3 linked regions of the Homo sapiens genome follow. The protein of the gene in region 2 purifies or fractionates together with the protein of the main gene of each other region. This does not show direct contact. Each region holds a gene or a part of one and is shown on either strand. Other genes may lie near its edges.

The links. The genes of interacting proteins can lie anywhere in the genome.
Region 1: the proteins of CHST6 (region 2) and LRRC3 purify together in Homo sapiens (affinity purification with mass spectrometry; 2 studies listed by BioGRID and IntAct, with this or other methods). This does not show direct contact.
Region 3: the proteins of CHST6 (region 2) and DNAJC18 purify together in Homo sapiens (affinity purification with mass spectrometry; 2 studies listed by BioGRID and IntAct, with this or other methods). This does not show direct contact.

The regions. Positions count from the first base shown.
Region 1 is NC_000021.9:44,451,644-44,458,517, reverse strand, and holds the start of LRRC3 (leucine-rich repeat-containing protein 3 precursor), read right to left. Parts: upstream 3,009-6,874; 5' UTR 2,863-3,008; intron 2,021-2,862; 5' UTR 1,874-2,020; coding exon 1,100-1,873; 3' UTR 1-1,099.
Region 2 is NC_000016.10:75,492,434-75,499,668, forward strand, and holds the start of CHST6 (carbohydrate sulfotransferase 6), read right to left. Parts: upstream 3,009-7,235; 5' UTR 2,507-3,008; intron 1-2,506. UniProt on the Homo sapiens protein: Sulfotransferase that utilizes 3'-phospho-5'-adenylyl sulfate (PAPS) as sulfonate donor to catalyze the transfer of sulfate to position 6 of non-reducing N-acetylglucosamine (GlcNAc) residues of keratan.
Region 3 is NC_000005.10:139,436,518-139,444,492, forward strand, and holds the start of DNAJC18 (dnaJ homolog subfamily C member 18), read right to left. Parts: upstream 3,009-7,975; 5' UTR 2,929-3,008; coding exon 2,889-2,928; intron 1,042-2,888; coding exon 855-1,041; intron 1-854.

The sequences.
Region 1 (6,874 bases), on a different chromosome or scaffold from region 2:
GCCTTGGAAAAAGAGCTGTTTTATATCTTAGTGAGTAGAAAAAGCAAGGCACAGGGCCGGGCGCGGTGGCTGACGCCTGTAATCCCAGCACTTTGGGAGGCTGAGGCGGGCGGATCACTTGAGGCCAACAGTTCGAGACCAGCCTGGCCAACATGGTGAAACCCGGTCTCTACTAAAAATACAAAAATTAGCCAGGCGTGGTGGCTCATGCCTGTAATTCCAGCTACTAGGGAGGCTGAGGCAGCAGAAGTGATTGAGCCTGGGAGGCAAAGGTTGCAGTGAGCTGAGATCGCCCTGGGGCAGGGCCTCCCGCATCAGGCACACCCAGAGGGGCAGGAAGCAGGCGGGCCCCCAGGTATGTGGCTGCTGTCTTCCCCTGGGCAAGCTACCCTGGACTTTTCCCAGGTCTCTCTCCATATTGTTCACCCCATTACTGAACTGAAATTTTGGCACTACGGTTACTCAAAACAAACATTTGAGAATAAAAAAGGGTAGGACAGTTTGTTTGAGCTACACATCCCACTTAGCTCTCTAGAAAAACCTGGTCTCTGTTACTTTGCTCTGGAAACAGGGCTTACGTTCCAATGTACTTCGAACACTGGAACAAGGCTCATGTTTACCTACAATGCACTTTGTAAGTAAACAAGGGCAAGTCAGCTCCTCAGCACAGGACTTATCAGCGCCTTCAGCGGGTGAACCTGCACCCAAGCTCCCTCTGGTGAACCCTCTCGCTTGCAGAGCACCCCCTTAGTCCTCTGAGTGCATATCCACAGCCTGCAGGGCCCCGTGTGGGAGAGGCTGGCATGGTGGAAGGAGGCGGAATGTCACGATGGACAGCCCGGGTTGAAGTTCCACTGGGATAATTTCCTGATGGTATCGTCACGGGCAGTCATTCCGTTCCTCTAAGCTTCAGGTTCCTCATCCGTCACACGGATGTGTGGCAAAACCACCCAGCCTGGAGGTGCTGCTGTGCCTGAGTGCAACAGTGGGGAGCACACATGGCTGTGACACCTGCCTCAGGGAAGAGCAAAAGCAGCATCAGTCACCACCTACTACAAAAGTGACAGCAGCCACCGGCGGGGGTCTGCCGGAACAGGCGCTAGGGCCCCGGGCCGATGGGGTCCTTGGAGGCGGGGGCGCTGGGCAGAGACTTCAGGTACTCCAGGTGCCTCCGGGCATCCTCCTGGTTGTGGCGCACATAGTACACGACGTAGGCGATCACCATGGCGAACCAGCCGAACATGGTGACCAGCATGGCCACGTCTGTGGTCCTGTGGGGGACGCTGCAGAGGCTGGCACCCGCATCCAGAGCCTGAACCAGAGGCTTCCCCACAAACTCCTCCTGCACTGAGGTGTGGCAGGCGATCTCGTCCACAGAGTCGGGGTCCAGCTTCAGCTCCCACAGGGCCTCCTGCAGGGCGCACTCGCAGTGCAGGGGGTTGTGGGACAGGCGTATCTTGGCGCTGAGTTTGCCCAGGGCGTCCTTGGGGATCCTCTGGATGCGGTTGTAAGACAGGTCCAGCAGCCGCAGGCCCCCGGCCAGGCCCGCGAAGGTGGCGGAGCCGATGGCCTCGATGGCGTTGTGAGACAGATCCAGCTCCCTGAGCCGGTGCAGGTGCTGGAAGGCCCCGTCCGGGAGGTGGGAGATCTTGTTGGCATCGAGCTTCAGGAGCACGGTGTTGGCCGGGATGTCCTCGGGGACCTCCTGAAGGCCCCGCAAGCTGCAGAAGACAGCCACAGCCCCTGCGTGGTCAGGGCACCGGCAGGGCTGTGGGCAGGCGGCGCCCAGGTGCAGGCAGAAGAGGAGGAAGAGACAAGACTCCCGGGTGGAGACCAGCAGGAGCGAGGGGCGAGGTGGGCGCACGGTGCCCATCCTGACCTGACCTGGGGACGGGGACACGCGAGCCTCTGCTAGGGCCTGGGGATGGAGCTGGTTTCCGCAGGCAAGGCCTTATCCAACCAGACATGAAACCGCCATCCTGCCCCGCTGGGAGAAGCAGTGCAGTCCACTCTGGCAGCTCTGAAAGGGAAGACGCAGGAGGGAGCGGAGAGGGAGGGAGGGTGGTCAGCACTGCCGGCTGCGGTCACCTGGGAAACGCGTCCACTGGTGGGGAGGGTGTTGAGGGCCCACTGAAGGGTCTGGGGTGGGGAGCACGCCTCCTTAAACAGCTCTGCCTGTAACTTACTTCTGGAGACTCCCAATGCGCCCGGGAGGAGCGTCCCACAAGTGCAGGGAGCTGGCACTGCCAGGGGGCTCCGCATGGCCCAGTGGGTGGTCACTGCGGCCACCCCTGGCCACCTACAGCACCGCTGGGGACCAAAGGCCGGGCGGCGGAGTGGCGGCGGCTTGGACCACCCAGCCCCTCCCTCCTCAGGGTGGACGCCAGGAGGACGGTGACGGCTGCAGCTTCTCCCGAACCTGGAGCGCGGGTCAAGCTGGGCACGTGGCCGGGCACCAGCGGGCGCTCGCGCGCCAGGGGCTACTCCAGCAGCCAACGCCTGGCTGACTCCGACAACCCCTAAAAACTGTCATAACCCAGCAAGCCCTTCCCTGCCAGCCCTAAAGGAGCCGCGGCTCGCACCGGGCACAGAACCGCGCCTTTTCTTTCAACTGCCTGAAGAAGGAAACCGAGAAAACAGAGAAGCCAAGCCCTGTGCGCGCGGCCCGCGCTGGGCGTGGACGGCGGGGCCGCGCGCGGAGCCGGCCGGGAGAGGCTCGGACCCCCAGGACCTCCAGCCTTTAGACCCTCCGGCCCTAGGACCCCCGGAACCTGGGACCCCCGAGACCCCAGCACTCGCGGCGGGGGGATGGTCATGGGGTGGGTGGGAATCCACGCTCCCAGGGCTGGGCGGGGGCTTTACCTGCGCGGCGGCGGCCGGAGGCTGCTCTGCGCGCCGCTCCCGGGCCTCTCGGAGCCCGCCAGACCCAGCTCCACGCCTGGCGCGGCGGCCACCCCGCTGCCCCTGCGACCGCGCCCGCGACCACTAGCTGGGGAGGCCGCGACTCCGGCCTGCGCGGGCGAGGGGCGGGGTGGGGCGGGGCCTGGAGGGGGCGGGGCGAAAGGCGGAGACAGGCTGTGTCGATTCCCCGCGGGGGCGGGGAAGGGGCGGGGCATGTAAGGAGACCGGAACGGGATTTGTGGTTAGGCGGGGGCGGGGCTTGAGGGCGGGTTCTGCGGCAGGGCGGGGCCTGGAAGAGATGGGGGAGGGGCATGGGAGGGGCATGGGAGGGGCCGGTGGTGCGGCTTTAGATGGAGCTGGTACTAAGACCCAGGTCGCAGGGGCTGTGGGCGGGTTGTGGGAGTAATTGTGGCATGCTGGGGGCGTGGTTGTGGGGCTGAGGACGAGGTGGTGGGGGCTGAGGGCGTGGTTATGGGTGGGGGCGGGGTCTGCGCGCCGGGAGGGGCTGTGGGTCCAGCCCCTGCCCCTCACTCTGGGCAAATCCCCTCTTCCCTCTGGCATCAGGACTTCTGGGGCTTGAAGACCCTGGGTCTGCGGGAAGCCCCTGCTGAGCGTCCCTCGCCTACCCCGTGGCCAGTGGGTGAGTAGGGCTAGATCTCCGCCCATCTAGGTCCCCTTCTGCTCCAGCTCCAGCGTCTGACATCCCAAGGAAGGAACGCAGGGTGGGGGCATTTGAGCCGGACCTGAGCCATCCTCATGGTTTTCAAAAAGTAGCCTTATTGTGGTGTAATTGACAGACGGTAAGCCACATATTTCAATTTGGTACGTTTTAACACTCGGATACTCCTGTGAAACCATCACCACAATCAGCATAGTGAACACCCCGGGTTCCCTCTTGGTCATCTCTCCCTGCCCTCCCTCATCCCCAGGCAAGCACTGATCTGCATTCTGTCACTACTGATTACTTTGCATTTCCTATGATTTGCACAAATGGAATCATATAATATGTACTTTTTGTGTAGCTTCTTTCACTCAGCACAATTATTTTTGAGATTTGCCTGCGTCATTTGGTTTGTCAATGCGTATTTCTTTTACAGCTGCATGGTACTCCAGTGTATGAATGTACCACAGTTTGTGTCCATTCACCTGCTGGTGGGCATTTGGGTTGTTTCTGGTGTTGGCTCTTACAGATAAAGCTGATCCGAACATTGTGCACAAGTCTTTGGATGAATGCTTTTCTTTCTCTTGAATAGATGTCTAGGAGTGGAGTGGCTGGATGCCACGGTAGCCATATGTGAAACTTTTTAAGAAACTGCCAAAGCGATTGTATGGTTTTACATTCCACATCCTCCCCAGCACTTGGTATGGTTTGTCTTTTTAATTTCAAATACTCTAATAGGTGTGTGGTGATAGATGGAACTGTGGTTTTAATTTGCGTTTCCCTGTTGGCCAATGATGTTGAGCATCATTTCATCTGTTTATTCTCCATCTCCTGTAGTAAGCGTTGAGTTCAAATCTTTTACTCACTTTTAATTGGGTTGTTTATTTTCTTATTATTGAGTTTGGGAGTTTGTTGCATATTCTGGATACAAGTCCTTTATCAGATATGTGATCTGTAAATGCTTTCTCCAAGCCTTTGGATTGTGTGTTCATTCTCTTAACAGTTTTTCAAAGAGCAGAATTTTTTAATTTTGAGGAAATCCAATTTATGTTTTTCTTTTATGGATCCTGCTTTTGGTGTCATATATAAGAAATCTTTGCCTCACCCAAAGTCACAAGGGTTTTAGAGTTTTAAAGGTTTGCATTTGGGTCTATTACCTATTTTAAGTTTATTTGGGTTTATAGTATGAGATATGATTCAATGTTTATTTTTTGTGTATGTGGATAATCAGTTTTTTCCAGACTGTTGAAAAGACTATCCTTTCTCTTGTTTGCTGAGAGTCTTTTTAATCAGGAATGAAAGTTGGATTTTGTTTTTTCTGCATCTATTGAGAATCTTTTTGCGTGATGATCTATTAATATGATAGAGTATAATGATTGATTTTAAAGTGTTAAATCAATCTTGTGTTCTTGGGATAAAGCCCACGTGGTCATGATGTATTATCATTTTTATATGTGGTTGAATTATTTAATGGATATACAACTGCTGAGTTTATTTTATTCTTGACTGAATGTATGTAGTTTGTATCGCTCAAGAAATTGCCCATCGCATATAAGTTGTTGAATTTATTAGCATAAAGTTGTTCATAATATTCCTTTATCCTTTCAACATCTGTGAAGTATGAGGTGATGTCATCTTTCTCATTTCTGATACTGGCAATTGTGGCTTTTTTTTTAACTGAACAATCAGATAGCAGTTTATCAATTGTATTGATCTTCTCAAAGAAATAGCTTTTTGGTTTCGTTGATGCACTTTTTTTTCATTGACTTCCACTCTTTATTCTTTCTTTTGCTTGTTTTTTTGTTTGTTTGTTTTTGTTTTTGTTTTTGTTTTTGAGACAGAGTCTTGCCTTGTTGCCCAAGCTGGAGTTCAGTGGGGGCAATCTCGGCTCACTGCAAACTCCATCTTCCGGGTTCAAGTGATTCTCCTGCCTCAGCCTCCTGAGTAGCTGGGATTACAGGCATGTGCCACCATGCCCAGCTAATTTTTGTATATTTTTAGTAGAGATGGGGTTTCACCATGTTGACCAGGCTTGTCTCGAACTCCTGACCTCAGGTTATCCACCCACCTCGGCCTCCCAAAGTGCTGGGATTACAGGCATGAACCACTGCACCCAGCCTCTTTTGCTTACATTGGGTTTGACTTTCTCTTCTTTTTTAGGTCTCTTAAGGTGGAAGCTGGGGTCACTGATCTGTACAAGCATTCAGTACTATAAATTTCCCTCTAAGTCCACCTTTAACTGCATCCCAGAAATTTTGATATGTTGTATTTTTGTTTTCATTAAGTTGAAAATAATTTATAATTTTCCCTTTGATTTCCTTTTTGACCCATGAGTTTAGAGCTATGCTATTTCACTTCCACATATCTGTGCATTTTCCAGAGCTCTTTCTGCTGTTGATCATTACTTTAAAGCCATTGTTGTCAGAGGACATATTCTATGTTTCGGATCCTTTTAAATTTATTGAGACTCTTTCATGGCCCCGATTATGGTTGGCGGTTGTTGCATGCGCACTTGAATTTGTGTACTGTTGCTCCACGAGGTGTCCTATAAACGGCAATGACTGTGTTATTTGAGTAGCCCATATTATCATCCACTTTCTGTCTACTTGCTCTGCTAATTATTGAGAGACCAGCCTGGGCAACAAAGTGAGACACCATCTCTACAAAAAATCAAAAACTCACCCATCCATGGCAGCGCATGCCTGCAATCCTAGCTACTTGGGAGGCTGAGGCAGGAGGATTTCTTGAGCCCAGGAAGTCAAGGCTGCAGTGAGCCGTGATTGTGCCATTGCATTTGAGCCTGGGTGGCAGAGCAAGACCCTGTCTCAAACAAACAAATTCTTGATAGCGGTGTTGAAACCTCTGACTGTAATTGCAGATTTGTCTGTAATTTTTCCTTGCAGCTCTATCAGCTTTTGCTTCATGTGTTTTGAGACTCTGTGCTCACATCGTGCATGCTCCTGACTGGTTGACCCCTGTGTCATCATGAAATGACCCTCTTTATCCCTAGACTCTGACTTGAAATTGACTCCTGCTTTCCTTTGATTAGTTTAGCATGGGATATCTTCTTTTACCTTGTTACTTTTTACCTAGTGTGTCTTATACTTAAATTAGCTTCATTGGAGATTTCCATAGGATCAAAGTATCTGCTTTGACATATTTATTAACCTAAAAAAGTAATAACAGCTTTTCAGTGCAGAAACCACCTTATCTATGTGACAAAGCTCGGGCCATCAGTGGCAAGGTAGATTGGCATCACGTACCTTTGATACAACAACCTGAGAAGGACGTCACTTCTGCGATATTCCTGCC
Region 2 (7,235 bases):
TTACAGAGATAATCTGGAATGTTCCCTGGTTTATTAACCATTTATTTTAATTACCTTATTTTTTAAAAGTAAATCATACTTCCAAATCTATGACAGAAAAAGGAAGAGACTATTTTATAGGAAAATAACTCAGGGCCGGGCGCGGTGGCTCACGCCTGTAATCCCAGCACTCTGGGAGGCCAAGACAGGCAGATCACCTTAGGTCAGGAGTTGGAGACCAGCCTGGCCAAACATGGTGAAACCCTGTCTTTACTAAATACACAAAAAGTAGCCAGGTGTGGTGGCACGTGCTTGTAATCCTAGCTACCCAGGAGGCTGAGGCAGGAGAATCACTGGAGCCAGGAGTCCGAAGCTGCAGTGAGCTGAGATCACGCCACTGCACTCCAGTCTGGGCGACAGAGAGAGACTCCATCTCAAACAAAAACAAAAACAAAAACCAAAACCAAAAAACACATAGTCAAATGCAACATGTGGACCTTGTGTGGATTCTGATTTGAAAAAAACATCTGCCAGGAGATACCCTAGAGGTAATCAGATATATTTCAATATTGACTAATAGGTGATAGTGAGAAATTATTATTAATACTATTATCACTACCCAGAACAATCTTGTTCATGTATTTCTGGACCCATTTCCCCGCCCAAGACACTAGAAGCAGAATGGTGTCTGTCTCATTAAAGACAGTAGGTATAGAGCACTGAGGTTAAGAGTGTGAATCCCACTTGACCATTTACTGAGCGATCTTGTGCAAGTTACTTCCTTCTGTGCCTGCTTGGTTAAAAAAAAATCTGGAAGGTCAGGTGCGGTGGCTCACACCTGTAATCCCAGCACTTTGCGAGGCTGAGGAGGGCGGATCACGAGGTCAGGAGTTTGAGACCAGCCTGACCAACATAGTGAAACCCCATCTTTACTAAAAATACAAAAATTAGCCGGGCGTGGTGGCGGGTGCCTGTAATCCCAGCTACTCAGGAATTTGAGGCAGGAGAATCGCTTGAACCTGGGATGCGGAGAGGTTGCAGTGAGCCGAGATTATGTCACTTTCACTGCACTCCAGCCTCGGTGACAGAGCGAGACTCCGTATCAAAAAAAAAAAAAAAAATCTGTAAAGTGGGGGAAACAATATAACCCAACTCATGGGCTTGATTGAAAGAGTGAGTGAGTGGATATTTGTAAAGCAGAACAAAGTCTGGCGCATAGTGCACTTATGAGTATTTGCTTAGCAATCTTCCTTCCTGGGCCACACTTATATTCTATGAATCCAAGGGAAAGTCTTTGAATGAGGAAAACCCAAGGACAATGGCTCTACCAGATTCAGGTGCCCCAGTGCCCCAGCAACAGAATGTGGCAGGCACAGACAGGGTCCCCACAAGGGCAAACAAAACAGAAGACGCTGGAAAGTCATGGCTAGAGGCCTGGCTTGTGTTTTTTCTGAGATGGAGTCTCGCTGTTGTCCAGACTGGAGTGAAGTACCGCAATCTCAGCTCACTGCAACCTCCGCCTCCTGGGTTCAAGTGATTCTTCTGCCTCAGCCTCCCAAGTAGCTGGGATTACAGGCACTCACCACCATGCCCAGCTTATTTTTGTATTTTTAGTAGAGATGGGGTTTCACCATGTTGGCCAGGCTGGTCTTGAACTCCTGACCTCAGGTGATCCACCTGCCTCGGCCTCCCAAAGTGCTGGGATTACAGGCGTGAACCACTGCGACTGGCCTTAGAAGCTTGGCTTCTGAAGCCGGATTGGGTTCAAATCCTGTCTCTACTACCAGTGAGGGGTGTGACTTAGAGCAAGTCACTCTCTGGCTCTCTATACTCCAGTTGACTCTGTTTGTAGAACAAAGCCAGAAAAGTTCCGGCCTCTCAGGCTGGAGAGGAGCCCAGCCCCAGCTCCCGGAGCAGCATAGCACCCTCAGAGGCCCTGGTACTTGGCCTACTCGCTTGTGGGTTTAAGTCAGCCAACTCCTTTCTGCTCTTCAGGCCTCAGTTTTCCCATCCTCAAAAATGGGAAACTTGACTGCCTTGCCTCTGTGAAAAAGGGAGGAGAAAGGAAAGTCAACATTTGCTAGGCACCTGTCCTGAGGCCCAGAGGGCCTGTCCTGAAGCCCAAGATGAAGCCGTCAGAAGCAGTGACGCAGGACTCCAATTCCCCTGGGTCTGGTTCCAAATCAACCCGCCAAGCTACCGTCTCTCAATAATTCTATGGAAAAAGCCCTTGGAGAGCTTTTGAAAGTCATGTCCTTTGAAACTCAAGTATCGAGACAAAAGGGGTTCTCCCCTCGCAGTGAGGATTCTCCTGCGCAGCCGAAGCCCCAGCAAGACACTTCCAAACCGGCGCCAACAGCGGCGATGCCCTTTCCACGTTGCTGATGGAAAAGCCACTCCCAGCTCTTCCCGCCACCCCAGGTCCCCGGTGCAGGACAGAGGAGCGTCCCCAGCTGTGCCACCAGCCCGGCCCCCAGCCGACCCGAGTGTGGGGACATCCCCCGCGGAGAATGAAGAACCAACGTACCCCAAAGCTTGGCGGCTCTGCCCGAGCTGCAGCGGCACGGTGGGGGACGCCTCTCTCCCTGGACTCAGCAAAGGCTCCCAAACGTCGTCTCTTCCAAATTCCACCGCACAGCCAGCTCTTTCTCTTCACTGGGAGGGTCCGCAGGGGCTGACTTGCTCCTTAAGGTCCCAAGACTATTAAGCGACACCCGGTGAGGCCGGGAAAGGGGCTCTAAGAGGCATGGACGAGAGTTGGCGGTGACCAAGCCACTGGAAGCTCCTGGAGACTCGAGGTAGAACGAATGTGGGAACAGGGCAGGAGTCCCAGAATGGGATGTTGAGGCTGGGGGTGTCCTGGGGCTACCACAGGGAAGGACCCGGCGCAGAGCTCCCTCTGGAACCCGGCACTGCGGCCCGCGCCCTCTACTCCCCGCGCGCCGGCCGGCAACCCTCGGCGCTGCCCGGTGCAGCCCGCCCGAGCGCACACAATGAGGCGCTTTCAGACGTGGCTGCGGTCCCGAGGTGGCCAGCGGGAGCTAGCGCCGTGGGGGAAGGAAGGAGCCGGTTGGCCCACCCCCGACCGAGGGGCCACGCCTCGGGGGAGGGGCGCCGGCCGAGGGCGGGGCAGGAGGGCCCAGGTGGGCTGGGGCTCTGAGAGGCTCAACTTTTAGCCCAGAATGTCAAAGGGCGCTGGCAGAGTCACCTCTCATCTGACTACAGAGGAACGTTGTACCCCACCCCACCCCAAATCCCCAGAGAAGGGGGGCTCCTGGGAGGACAAAGGCCCTAGTGAAGGAAGTCGAATCTTAATCTTGACCCTCCTCACTCTCGGGGGCATCCTTGCGGCGAGGTGACTTGGAATCCAAACCCTTCCCAAGGCCACGGCACCTGGATGACACATGGACCCGGTGCAGTGTCCCAACTGGGAAGAGCGGAGAGACCAGGTGGCCTTAGGAGCTGGGTCCGCAGCTTTTCCCCTCCTCCTGCGCATTCCCTGCCCTAGCCTAGGCCCAGAGGCGCAGGTTCATAGCAGGTCCAGATAAAGACATGATACGTTTCAATAAATAAGATATTTCCGGCCAGGGCTGGGCGCGGTGGCTCACGCCTGTAATCCCAGCACTTTGGGAGGCCGAGGCGGGCGGATCACGAGGTCAGGAGATCGAAATCATCCTGGCTAACACAGTGAAACCCCGTCTCTACTAAAAATACAAAAAAATTAGCCAGGCCTGGTGGCGGGCACCTGTAGTCCCAGCTACTCGGGAGGCTGAGGCAGGAGAATGGCGTGAACCCGGGAGGCGGAGCTTGCAGTGAGCCGAGATCGCACCACTGCACTCCAGCCTGGGCGACAAAGCGAGACTCCCTCGCAAAAAAAAAAAAAAAAAATCCGGCCAGGCGCGGTGTCTCACGCCTGTAATCCCAGCACTTTGGGGGGCCGTAGTGGGTGGATCACGAGGTCAGGAGTTCGAGACCAGCCTGGCCAACAGGGTGAAACCCCGTCTCTACTAAAAATACAAAAATTAGCCGGGCGTGGTGGCAGGCACCTGTAATCCTAGCTACTCAGGAGGCTAAGGCAGGAGAACTGCTTGAGCCCAGGAAGCGGAGGTTGCAGTGAGCTGAGATTGCACCACTGCACTCCAGCCTGGGCGACAGAGCGAAACTGTTTCAAAAAAAAAAAAAAAAAAAATCCCCTTTACAAATAACAGGGCAGAGCCCAGGCACCTGAAAAGGATGAAGCATTTCTAGGTCTTGTCAAATTAGTGATGGGATCTTAATCAAGAACTCCCTGCTGCTGGGAGAAGAAATAAGCAGTCCTTCCTGGTTGTGGTTTGGCAAGATGAATTAAGATTCTTGACAATGGTCGTAAGCTTTTCGGATTGGTAATTCCTTTCTAGGAGCTATCTTAAGGAAATAAACCAGAAACAAGGATTTATGTACAGGGTTCATATAAGTGTTGTTCATGATTTTGATACTGATTTTTTTTTCAGATGGAGTCTCACTTTTGTAGCCCAGGCTGGAGTGCAATGGCAGGATCTAGGCTCACTGCAACCTCCGCCTCTCGAGTTCAAGTGATTCTCTTGCCTCAGCCTCCTGAATAGCTGGGATTACAGGTGCCCACCACCACGCCAGGCTAATTTTTGTACTTTTAGTAGAGACAGGGTTTCACCATGTTGTCCAGGCTGGTCTCGAACTCCTGAGCTCAGATGTGATCTGCCCGCCTCTGTCTCCCAAAGTGCTCGGATTACAGGCATGAGCCACCGTGCCCGGCCTGTTCATGATTTTTAAAAAGTTAGAAATAGTGTATGGGATAGAAAGATGTGTGCCAGAAGGCCAACCATAACTCTGGGTAGGGGATTGGCCGGCAATCATTATTTTCCTTAGGATCATGTAATTTACATTTCCTTAATCAGTATTTAGAAGTTATCTGGCCAGAAAGCTCCAAAACCTCTTTACAAAGCATGAATAAGGAGAGGGGGCAAGGATGTGGAGGATAAGGTAAGAGGGACGCAAAGAGAGAGAATTGCTTTAATAAGCTTCAAGATGGGCACTCAGTGGGGCATTAGACACCTCACCTGCTTTGGCAGAAACTGGACTAATCATTTGGAAGAATTAGAGATTTCTCTCCCACAAAACAAATTCAATAATTATCTCAAATATGACTTATCTATGGCTTCAGCTCAGTTGATAAAATCCTGTGTATTTCTTACCTTTCTTCCTCCTGCAACTATGCTGTGTGGTTCAGTTTCAGAAACTACCAATAAATGATCCGTAAATAATTTGATATTCACCAGACACAGTTGTAATTTTCCAACCCGCAGCTCCCATATGCCATGTGGATTCCACTAAAAACTAATATACTTGGGGTTGGACCAGGAAACTTTTGCCAAAGAGCTAACAAAAGCTCCAAGGTCTTTGGGCAGAGCCGTGGCAAAGCAAGGCTACTGGTGAGTAACTCGGAGAAGTGTGCTCAACTTCAGCCCTCCCTATTCTTCCTCCCTCCAAAGCCTTGCTTCAAAAATAGCTAATACAACCTTCCATGTTGAACATTTTAATTAGAAAGCTACAGAACATAATGGATTCTTTATACAAGTTTTGCATTCAAATAATTTAATAAAATGCAAACCAAAGTTTATACGTATCTTTAGCCATCTTCCCATGTTTCATTAAATTCTGGGGATTTAAACCACAAGCAATTTTTCATTTCAGTCTCAAGAGACGGGGCACACTGGCCCATGCCTATATTCCTGGCACTTTGTGGGGCTGAGACAGGAGGATTTCCTGAGGTTGGGAGTTCAAGACCAGCCTGGGCAACATAGTGAAAACCCCATCTATAAAAATAAATAAATCTCAAGAAAAAAATTTAGGCATCTAAAATAGCCAGAATATTAAAAAAAGACAAGGGGGACAGTGTTAGAGAATTCCTCTGCTTGAATACTTCAAAATAGCTTTGTTTCCAAAACTGTTTTTAGTCAGCCTAAAGGAAACGGATGCTGGAGATGAAAAATGATCTCCAAGGTAAACTGAGGCACACACTGAGGGGTGTGTTTCTGGGTGGGCATGAAGCATGGATCACCGGAGCCATGTCCTTCCAGGGGCAACGACCTGCTTGGGATCAGGAAGCAGCTCCATGTGTTCTTGGAGGAGACTGCACGCATCCTCAGGAGGTGAATCGGCTGAACAAGCCATCTTCCGTGTGCAGAGGCCCCTTCCAGCCATCTCTGCTCCTGCAGACACTTGCTTAGCCACGAGGATAATCCACTGGACTGCTTGGTATTCTGCTAGTGGCCAGGCTGGACTGGCCTGCCCAGGCCAGCATCCTCTTTACACCCTCACTGCTTCTTGTGTCCTTCCCAAAGCTGCCCGCCCCACTCTGATGGGCACCCTTTTCCTTAGTCAAGGGAAACGCCAGCCGCTGGGCTTCCCGCTAGCCTTCCAAATAAACTTGTGGTTGTCAGGCAGCGGGAGCCAATCCCAACACCAACCCCTGTCGCCCCTGTCCTTTGCAGGAAGGGGGAGGGCTGTCAAGGAGGAGGAGGGCCAAGTGCCCAGGCTGTTGGGTGAGGGCCAGAAAGAACCTGTTGTGACAATGCTTTCTTCCCCCAGTGCTGCTGAGGGGGCTGAGAATGAAACAGCCCCTCTGACTTCAGCCTGCCATCCAGGGGCACAGACAGAGGGAAAAACCGGGCAAAGAGCCAGCCACAGTCGGGCAGGGATCCAGGGCTGCTCAGCTGAGCTGATGACAGATGACTGACTGTTGGGCTGGGGCAGGTGGACGGTCCAAGTGTCCTTCAGCGGCCCTCCCTGATTGCCTGTGCTAATGCGGCCCTTGCCCTTGGGCCCTGCCCCTCCAGGTCTCCAGTTAAAGGCCTCAGCTCTGGAAATCAAAGCTGTGAATGGGAAATGGAGAAGCCCAGGGGTGCAAAGTGCTAGTGATTGGCATGTTTGTCACAAGAGAGCCCTGAAAAGAGTAAGAGTGGCTCACAACAGAAGGAAGAAATGCACAGTGTGTTCCTCAGTTCAACAGAGGAAAAGTCTCTGCTTGACCAGAGATGGGACTCTTTCCAAGATGTCTGAACTGACTGCAATTTTCTCCTGAAATTCAACGCTAAGGCAAAGAAGAAAAACCCAAAAAGCTAATTATAGCCTCCAGGAACTCTCAGACCTTTCCACAAACTAGTCCCTGACAATTCTGCAGGAGCTCTGAAGATACGGAACTGTGTAGAGCAAAACTGGAAAGAACCGTTGTCTCTGAG
Region 3 (7,975 bases), on a different chromosome or scaffold from region 2:
TTTTTTTTTTTTTTTTTTTTTTGAGAGACAGGGTCTTGCTCTGCTGTGCGATTATGACTCACTGTAGCTTCAACCTACTGGGTTCAAGCAATCCTCCTGCCTCAGCCTCTCAAGTAGCTGGGACTACAGGTTGGTGCCATCATACCAAGCTAATTTTTGTATATATATATTTTTTGGAAGAGAGGGGGTTTCACTGTATTGTCCAGGCTGTCTAGTTCCTTAAGGTAGATTAGGTTACTGATTTGGAGTCTTTTTTAAAAAAATAAGCATTTAGAGCTATAAATTTCCTTCTAAGCACTGTTTTAGCTGCATCCTATACATTTTAGTACGTCGTGTTTTCATTTTCACTCATCTCAAAGCATTTTCTAGCTTTCCTAGTGATTTATTCTGTGACTTGCTTGCTTATTAGGAGCTTGTAGTTTAATTTCCACATATTTGTGAATTTCTCAAATTTCCCTTTGTTTTTGATTTCAGAGAACATACACTGTATGATTTCAATCTTTTTAAATTTATTGAGGCTTGTTTTATGACCTAAGATATGGTCTATCCTGGAGAATATTCTATGTATCCTTAAGAAGAAAATCGTTCTGTTGTTGTTGAAAGAATGTCCTGTAGATGTGTGTTGTGTCTAGTCGGTTTCTGCTGCCTCTCTTAAAGTAGAAGCAGGGTAGTCAGTTCATGTTATACCCTAATATTCCACTTCTATTCAGTCTTCCCTCTGAGGTCAAGAAGCTAGTATGCCTCAATTATCATCATCATCATCATTATCATCAGTCAATACTTACATAGCACATCCAGGCACTCTTCTAAGCACTTTCCATAAAATCACTCATTTAATCTCACCACATGCTCACCTTTGTACCCCAAGCAGCTGTTCCTCACTATACGTGGAGTTCCCCTCACCCTGCCGGGTCTGAGTCCACTCATTCTCAGACTTCTTTTCCTTTTGTGCCTTCATGCAGTTACAGCAGCCACAGGGGTCATGACTCTCAGGAGGTGTGTCTTCTGGGTATTTGTTTCTTCTAACTGCGTCAATGTAAGCTGCAAACAACAGCCCCTCCATTAGGTCTCCATCTGACCCTGAAAATCAACTTTGCAACCTGCCTTTCCTCTCTGGGAGGCTGCTCGTAAGCATGAGAAGGTAAGCATGATGGCCAGGGCTAGAGGCGTCATGCTGACTTTTAAGCACTCATACAAAGCTGAATAAACATGTTTCTCTGTGGTCCGTGGTCAGAAGAGACACTGCTCGTAAAATAGTATTTTTTGTTGCAGTGCCTCCCACCCCTAAAATTTAAAGTAGAGAGGAGTTCAATTCTTTTACACTAACAATTATAGAACTAATATATACCAAGGAACTTGGCTAGAAGATCAAGAGGGCGGATGGGTAAGATCTACTCCTGACCACAAAGAGGTTAGTTTAATGCAAGCTTGTCCAACCCGCGGCCCACAGGTGGCATGTGGCCCAGCACGGCTTTGAGCTCAATACAAATTCGTAAACTTTCTTAGAACATTATGAGGGCCGGGCGCGGTGGCTCACGCCTGTAATCCCAGCACTTTGGGAGGCCAAGGCGGGCGGATCACGAGGTCAGGAGATCGAGACCATCCTGGCTAACACCGTGAAACTCCGTCTCTACTAAAAATACAACAAATTAGCCGGGCGTGGTGGCAGGCGCCTGTAGTCCCAGCTACTCGGGAGGCTGAGGCAGGAGAATGGCGTGAACCCGGGAGGCGGAGGTTGCAGTGAGCCGAGATCGCGCTACTGCACTCCAGCCTGGGTGATAGAGCGAGACTCCGTCTCAAAAAAAAAAAAAAGAACATTATGAGATTTTTTTTTGCAATTTTTTTAAAGTTCATTAGCTGTCATCAGTTAGTTATTTAGTCGTCAGTTAGTGTATTTTATGTGTGGCCCAAGACAATTCTTCTTCCAATGTGGTCCAGGGAAGCCAAAAGATTGGATACCCCTGGTTTAAAGGGAGAAGATTCAATAACAACACCTGCAGAATGTAAAGAGGGTCATAAGCAATACAGTCAAAAGGGGCAGAGCACTCATGTCTTCTCTGGAGGACCTGAGAAAGGCTTTAACAACATCTTTCTTCCGCTTAACATCCCTCAGCTACCTCCACCCACTGCTCCTGGACAGTCTTCCTCTAAGTCGGCCTGGCTAACTCCGACGCATCCTTCTTGTCACCATTTGTAACACTTTCTGCAAGAAACCTCCCTTGACAGCCAGTCTGCGTTAGGTACCTTGTAAGTGTGCTCTCCAAATCCCTGACCTTGCTGTGTAGCCCAGGCGTTTTGTATTATTCGCCCGTTTTGTAATTGGCTGTTCAGTCGTCAAACTCTCTCAGTGGGCTGCGAGTTTTGTGAGCTAAGGGACCCATGTCAGTCAAATCCCCACTGCAGAATCAGCATTAGGCGGGGCACACAATAGGTATTGGATCAATATTTTTTGCCTGACTGTAGGGTGGAAAAGGCTGGTCCTGATGCCGGCTGGAGCGACATGATCAAACAGGGACTGAAGGTCAGGTGGCCCAGTTAGGCGAAAGATAAGGGCCAGGTTAGCAAGCTGCGGAGAGACCGCAGCACCCCACGGGCCCTCCAGTCACCTTGGCATGGGCGGGGCCTGACAGCTGCGGGCCCTGGGCGGGGCACGGGCGGGGGCGGGGCTGGGGGCCGGAGGCAACAAGTCGTCACCGGTGACTCTGGGCTCGCGGTCGGTCCCCAGCTTCCCTACCCCATCCGCAACCCTACTCAGGCTCAGCATCTTTTCACAGGCCTCTATCCATCACCTCAGACCCAGGATCTCAGCCCTTGTGCGTCTTCAGGATCCTCATCCCTGATCTCTCCCGAAGGCCGCCCTATCCCTCCTTCAGGCGGGGACCTAGTACCTTCCGTCCAGCGCTCCCCGCTGCCCAGAGTCGCCGCCATATCGGTTCCCAATCAGCAGGTCCGCCGAGCCTCCCCCGTGCCCGAGGCTGAAAGAGAAGGGGGCGCGGAGCGCGGGGCACGCTGGTCATTGTAGTCCAGTCCATATGAGCTCCCGGGGCACTGGACTACAACTCCCGGCAGGCTCTGCGCCAGAGGCCGTGGGAGACGCAGAGAAGTGCTCGACCTTCGTCAGGAGATCTGTGGAAGAGTGCTGCTGCCAGCTGCCAGCTGCCTGCAGCACGGCTCTTGGCTTTTCCTCATTTGTAGAGTTGGGATAGTGGCTTCGGCCCTGCCTAACCCTAGGGACATCCAAGGAGGGGCGACTGAAGTCCTGCCTGGAAAGGGCTTCGCAAACTATAGGCTAGAGGGTGACAGTATGACTATTATGCTCCTCAGGGATGTCTTTTTGAAGCATACGCTAATGCCTGTTCTGTGCAGTCAGTGGTAGGCCCTGGAGATTCAGAGATGGGTTTTGGGGATGCGGAACCCAGCCTTTGGAAGCTTGAGTCAGGAAAATAGAAAAGTGATGTAGATTTATGGGGTTGGAGGGCAATCTCAGTATGTCCCTACTGCCCCAGCTCCTCAGGCACTGGACATCAGAGGGTATCGGGGTGGAGAAAGAAGACATGGAAAGGTATTGGGGCCGGCATGAAGAGCCTCCATCTTTGCTGTTCCTGTCCTTCCTCCAACCCATCCTACTCCAACACCCCTCTGACACTTTTCTCCTCTCTTCCAGTCTAGTTATCTCTTTAGCCCATTCGTTTCTTTTCTGAAGGACCAGACATTGAGATTAGTAAAAAGGAAATGAGGAAATAAATATTCTTGCTGTTCCTCATCCAGGTATGGATGGAACCTAGCAAAGAATAAAAGCAACACTTTCTTCATAGGTGGATGGCTACAGTTCATCCCCAAACAAAAAATTACCCAGAATTAACTGAGGTCTTACCCAAGAAGACCAAATCAATCATGATATCAACTAGCACCTACTTAGGCAGTTGGGGAGAGATGTATATTCCTGGACATAAACTTGGAAGGGTAAAAGCACCAAAGGGCATGCAGTTCCAGCCCTTGCCTACAGTCATGGCCCTGGCATCACTGACATTATGCCCACTTAAGAACTCAGAGAACGGCCGGGCGCGGTGGCTTATGCCTGTAATCCCAACACTTTGGGAGGCCGCGGCAGGCGGATCGCGAGGTCAGGAGATCGAGACCATTCTGACCAACATGGTGAAACCCCGTCTCTACCAAAAATACAAAAATTAGCTGGGCATGGTGGCGTGTGCCTGTAGTCCCAGCTGCTCGGGAGGGAGGCTGAGGCAGGAGAATCGCTTGAACCCAGGGGGCGGAGGTTGTAGTGAGCCAAGATCGCGTCACTGCACTCCAGCCTGGGTGACAGAGTGAGACTCTGTCTCAGAAAAAAAACAAAAAACAAAACTCAGATAACAAGGCCTTTCAAGTGGAAAAAGCACTGGTCTAGAAGTTGTATAGGTGTTATATTAATAGCTGGGGTTTTGCCACAAATCATTGCGTGATCCTGAACATCTCCTTTTTCCTTCTTCTTTGGCCTCAGTCTCATCACCTATAAAACGAGAAGGTTGGATTCAATTAGTAGTTTTGTTTGTTTGCTTTTTGAGACAGAGTCTTACTCTGTCGCCAGGCTGGAGTGTAGTGGCATAATCTCGGCTCACTGCAACCTCTGACTCCCTGGTTCAAGCGATTCTCCTGCATCAGCCTCCCGAGTAGCCGGGACTACAGTCGCACGCCACCATGCCCAGCTAATTTTTGTATTTTTGGTAGAGACGGGATTTCACTATGTTGGCCAAGATGGCCTCAATCTCCTGACCTTGTGATCTGCCCGCCTCAGCCTCCCAAAGTGGTGTGATTACAGGCGTGAGCCACCGCACCCGGCCTCAATTAGCGGTTTTTAAATTGAGGAATCCTTAAGGCTTAATGTGCAGATGTCTCTGGAATCTTCTATTGAGGAGTGGGAGCGGGGAGGAAGGCATAGCAGGGAAGGCACTAGCACCTCACCCTTCTTCAATCAAAGAAGCTCTGTTTTTTTCTGTTTTGTATTTTGTGGTCTACTAAAGGAAAGAAAACCTACATGTTTGAAAACTACCAAACCAGTTGACCACTAAAGGCTTGTGTCATTTGTAATATCAGTTTCTCCTGGAGCACTTAAAGTCAGTGTTCTTCCCTCATCCCCACCCCCATAAGCACTGAGAAAGTAACAGTTGTCTAGAAATTTGGTCATTTTCACTTAATTTAGGAGGAGGAATTTAGCATAGTGGTTAAAAAATCTGCATAGGATTGCCGTAGGATATAGTAAGATAATGCTTGCAAAGCTTTTAGCACCTCATCTGGCATGTAGTATGTGTTTAATAAATGCTGACCACTGTTATAGACTGGCTCAGAGGAAGAGAAACCATTTTTTATAGTTTGACATTGTAAATTAGGAGCAAAGGGGTATATATGGGGTATATCATAAGGTCCTGGATATAACTAACTGGACCCCATTCCTGTCTATCTGGCAATCATTACCTGCAAATAAGACAAGAAGCAAAACACTACCAAAAAGGGCTGGGAAGTTGCTTGTCCATGTACCCTAACCCCTGAATCCAGCCACTAAAACTGGTGATTTTCTCCCTTTCAGAAACAGAAGAAGATGGCAAAAGTGAACTAGTATGAGAAGGTTTTGGGTCATCCTAAATCCAATGAATTATGGATGTCCTTAAACTTGAGAGGCAAAGGAGGCCCCAGAACCATGAGATGAGTCAAAAGCTCAGCTCTAGGACACTGGACCTATGACCAGCTAACTAATCCACGGAGCAGTGTACTCACAGAAAGCTGGATCCTGAAGGTCCTTCTTGTGCTCTGCAGCTGAGGGAACTGATCAGGGACATCCATCAGGTGGTTGAATATAAAAAGGAAGTTCTTCTGGTTTGGGGAGGCTAGACCGCCTGCTCTAGAAGATGGACAGCTGAGGGTGGGATAGACCTTGGAGTCCAGGGGCACAGGGAAAAGGTCTGGAGGTACTACCTGGAGATGTTAGAATACCATGAAGTCAGAGGTGTTTGGCTGAGAGTGGGCTGTTAGAGCACTGTAGGGGTTAACTGGATTGAGAGGAGCAACTATGAATTATGAGACTATCTAGGAGCAGAGCCTAGGTTCAAGAGTATTGGACAAGATTTGGGAAGCTGGGGCCTCTTCCCAAATCTTAGCTGCTGTCTGGTAGCTAAGCATCCTCTCTCCTCATGCTCTGAAACCTTACATCCCCTTCTTTTCCAGACTTCTTTTCATTTACTTCTAGAACAGTAACAAAAATGGTTTAGCATTATGACCTTCTCAAATATTGCCAAGTATCCACATGTATTCTTCAGTTTGTTTACACCTCAACTAACACTTCTGGATGAATTTTTTTTTTATGATCGCATCACTTGGACTAACGCGAAACTCTAAAGCTCAACATTAAGAATACTTCTGTGACAGTTTTTGCTTAAACTCATCAACTAGTCAGCAAAAATAATCCTCACTGTAAAGTTCAATTTCTGTGTTTTGTAAAAGAGGAAGCTGTGGGCCCAAAGAGTATAGGATGGAGATGCCAGTCGAAAAGGACCCACAGGAAAAGTGAGAGGGTAACTGGGAAGGAGATAAGGGAAGAGAAATTGGGGTCTCCAAGGCAGTTCTCAAAGAGAAGGAGGTAGATGTGGAAAGAAGTTTGACGAAGAGAGAAAGGAGGACATCCACAAACCCAGGAAAAGACTGGTGGACAGAATCACACAGTGTTTTCCAGCACATTCAAATTTAATAGAGTAGTACTAGCTGGGCTTGGGGAAATTGTGTGCCAGAACTAGGTCAAGGGGGCCTGCAATGATCCTTCATCTGCTAAACCATTTTACCTTAGGGCCAGCCTCAGATTTCTCTCAGTTTTCTCCACTTACTTTATTTTTTTGAGACAGGGTCTTATTCTGTTACACGGGCTGGAGTGCAGTGGCGCTATCACAACTCACTGTAGCCTTGATCTCTTGGGCTCAAGCGATCCTCCCACCTCAGCCTCCTGAGTAGCTGGGACCACAGGCACATGCCACTATGCCCACTATGCCTGGCTTTTTTTTTGTTTGTTTTTAAGATATGGGATCTCACTATATTACCCAGGCTGGTCTGGAACTCCTGGGTTCAAGCAATCCTGCCCCCGGGGACTTCCCAAGTGTTGGGATTAAGGCGCCTCCACTTACTTACATGTTGAACTGTAATGGATTCTTGCTGGTGATACTGAGGTCTGTCCTGTGCCCTATATGATTGAGATGCTGCCCCATCCAGCCCTAGAAGAAAGAAGCTGAGTAAATGATCCTCCTGTCCCACTGGGCCTGTGTGTCTGTGCTGGTTTATTGGTTGCCCTCCCATAGGATGAGGGAAAAAATGAGAGAAGGACATTCTGCAGCTAGCCCCCAATCCCCGCCACCTGTTCCTGTTTAAGGACCACGTAGTCCTGTGTGAGAAAAGGGAGGAAGTCATCTTGTAAACAATCATCATCCTGTTGTCTAGACATGAAGGAAGAGATAGGGTTTCAAGGAAGCTGCAAGGGCTGCAGAAGGCTGCACTCAGATTTCCTGTCAGAGGTGGCATCTTGGATTTGCATAAATAGTAGGCTCCTCCAGGAGAAACCTCTCTATTAGAGTTTGCTCCAGAGCAGAATTCAGCATTTAATTCATCCTCAACCCCTTCCCAAAGGATAGAGTTACTTAGCAACAGGAAAATCCACATGGCTTATGTGGTACTGCGGTGTCAGTGTCAGGGTAAAAGCCTTTCAATCTCAAAGATTATTAATACCAGTTGTCTCCCTCTTCCCCCACATATAAATACCTTATGACTAACAGCTTATATACGCAGGTCATTGCCCAGAGTCAGAGGAAAATGTGTGGTTTTATAATGAAGATGACAGCTGAGTTACTTAGAATGAAGCCCCATGTCCTTGACCTGATTAGTCCAGTATGATGAGCAGCTGTACTCAGTGCCCATGGCAGGCAGAATAACAACAGCACAAACA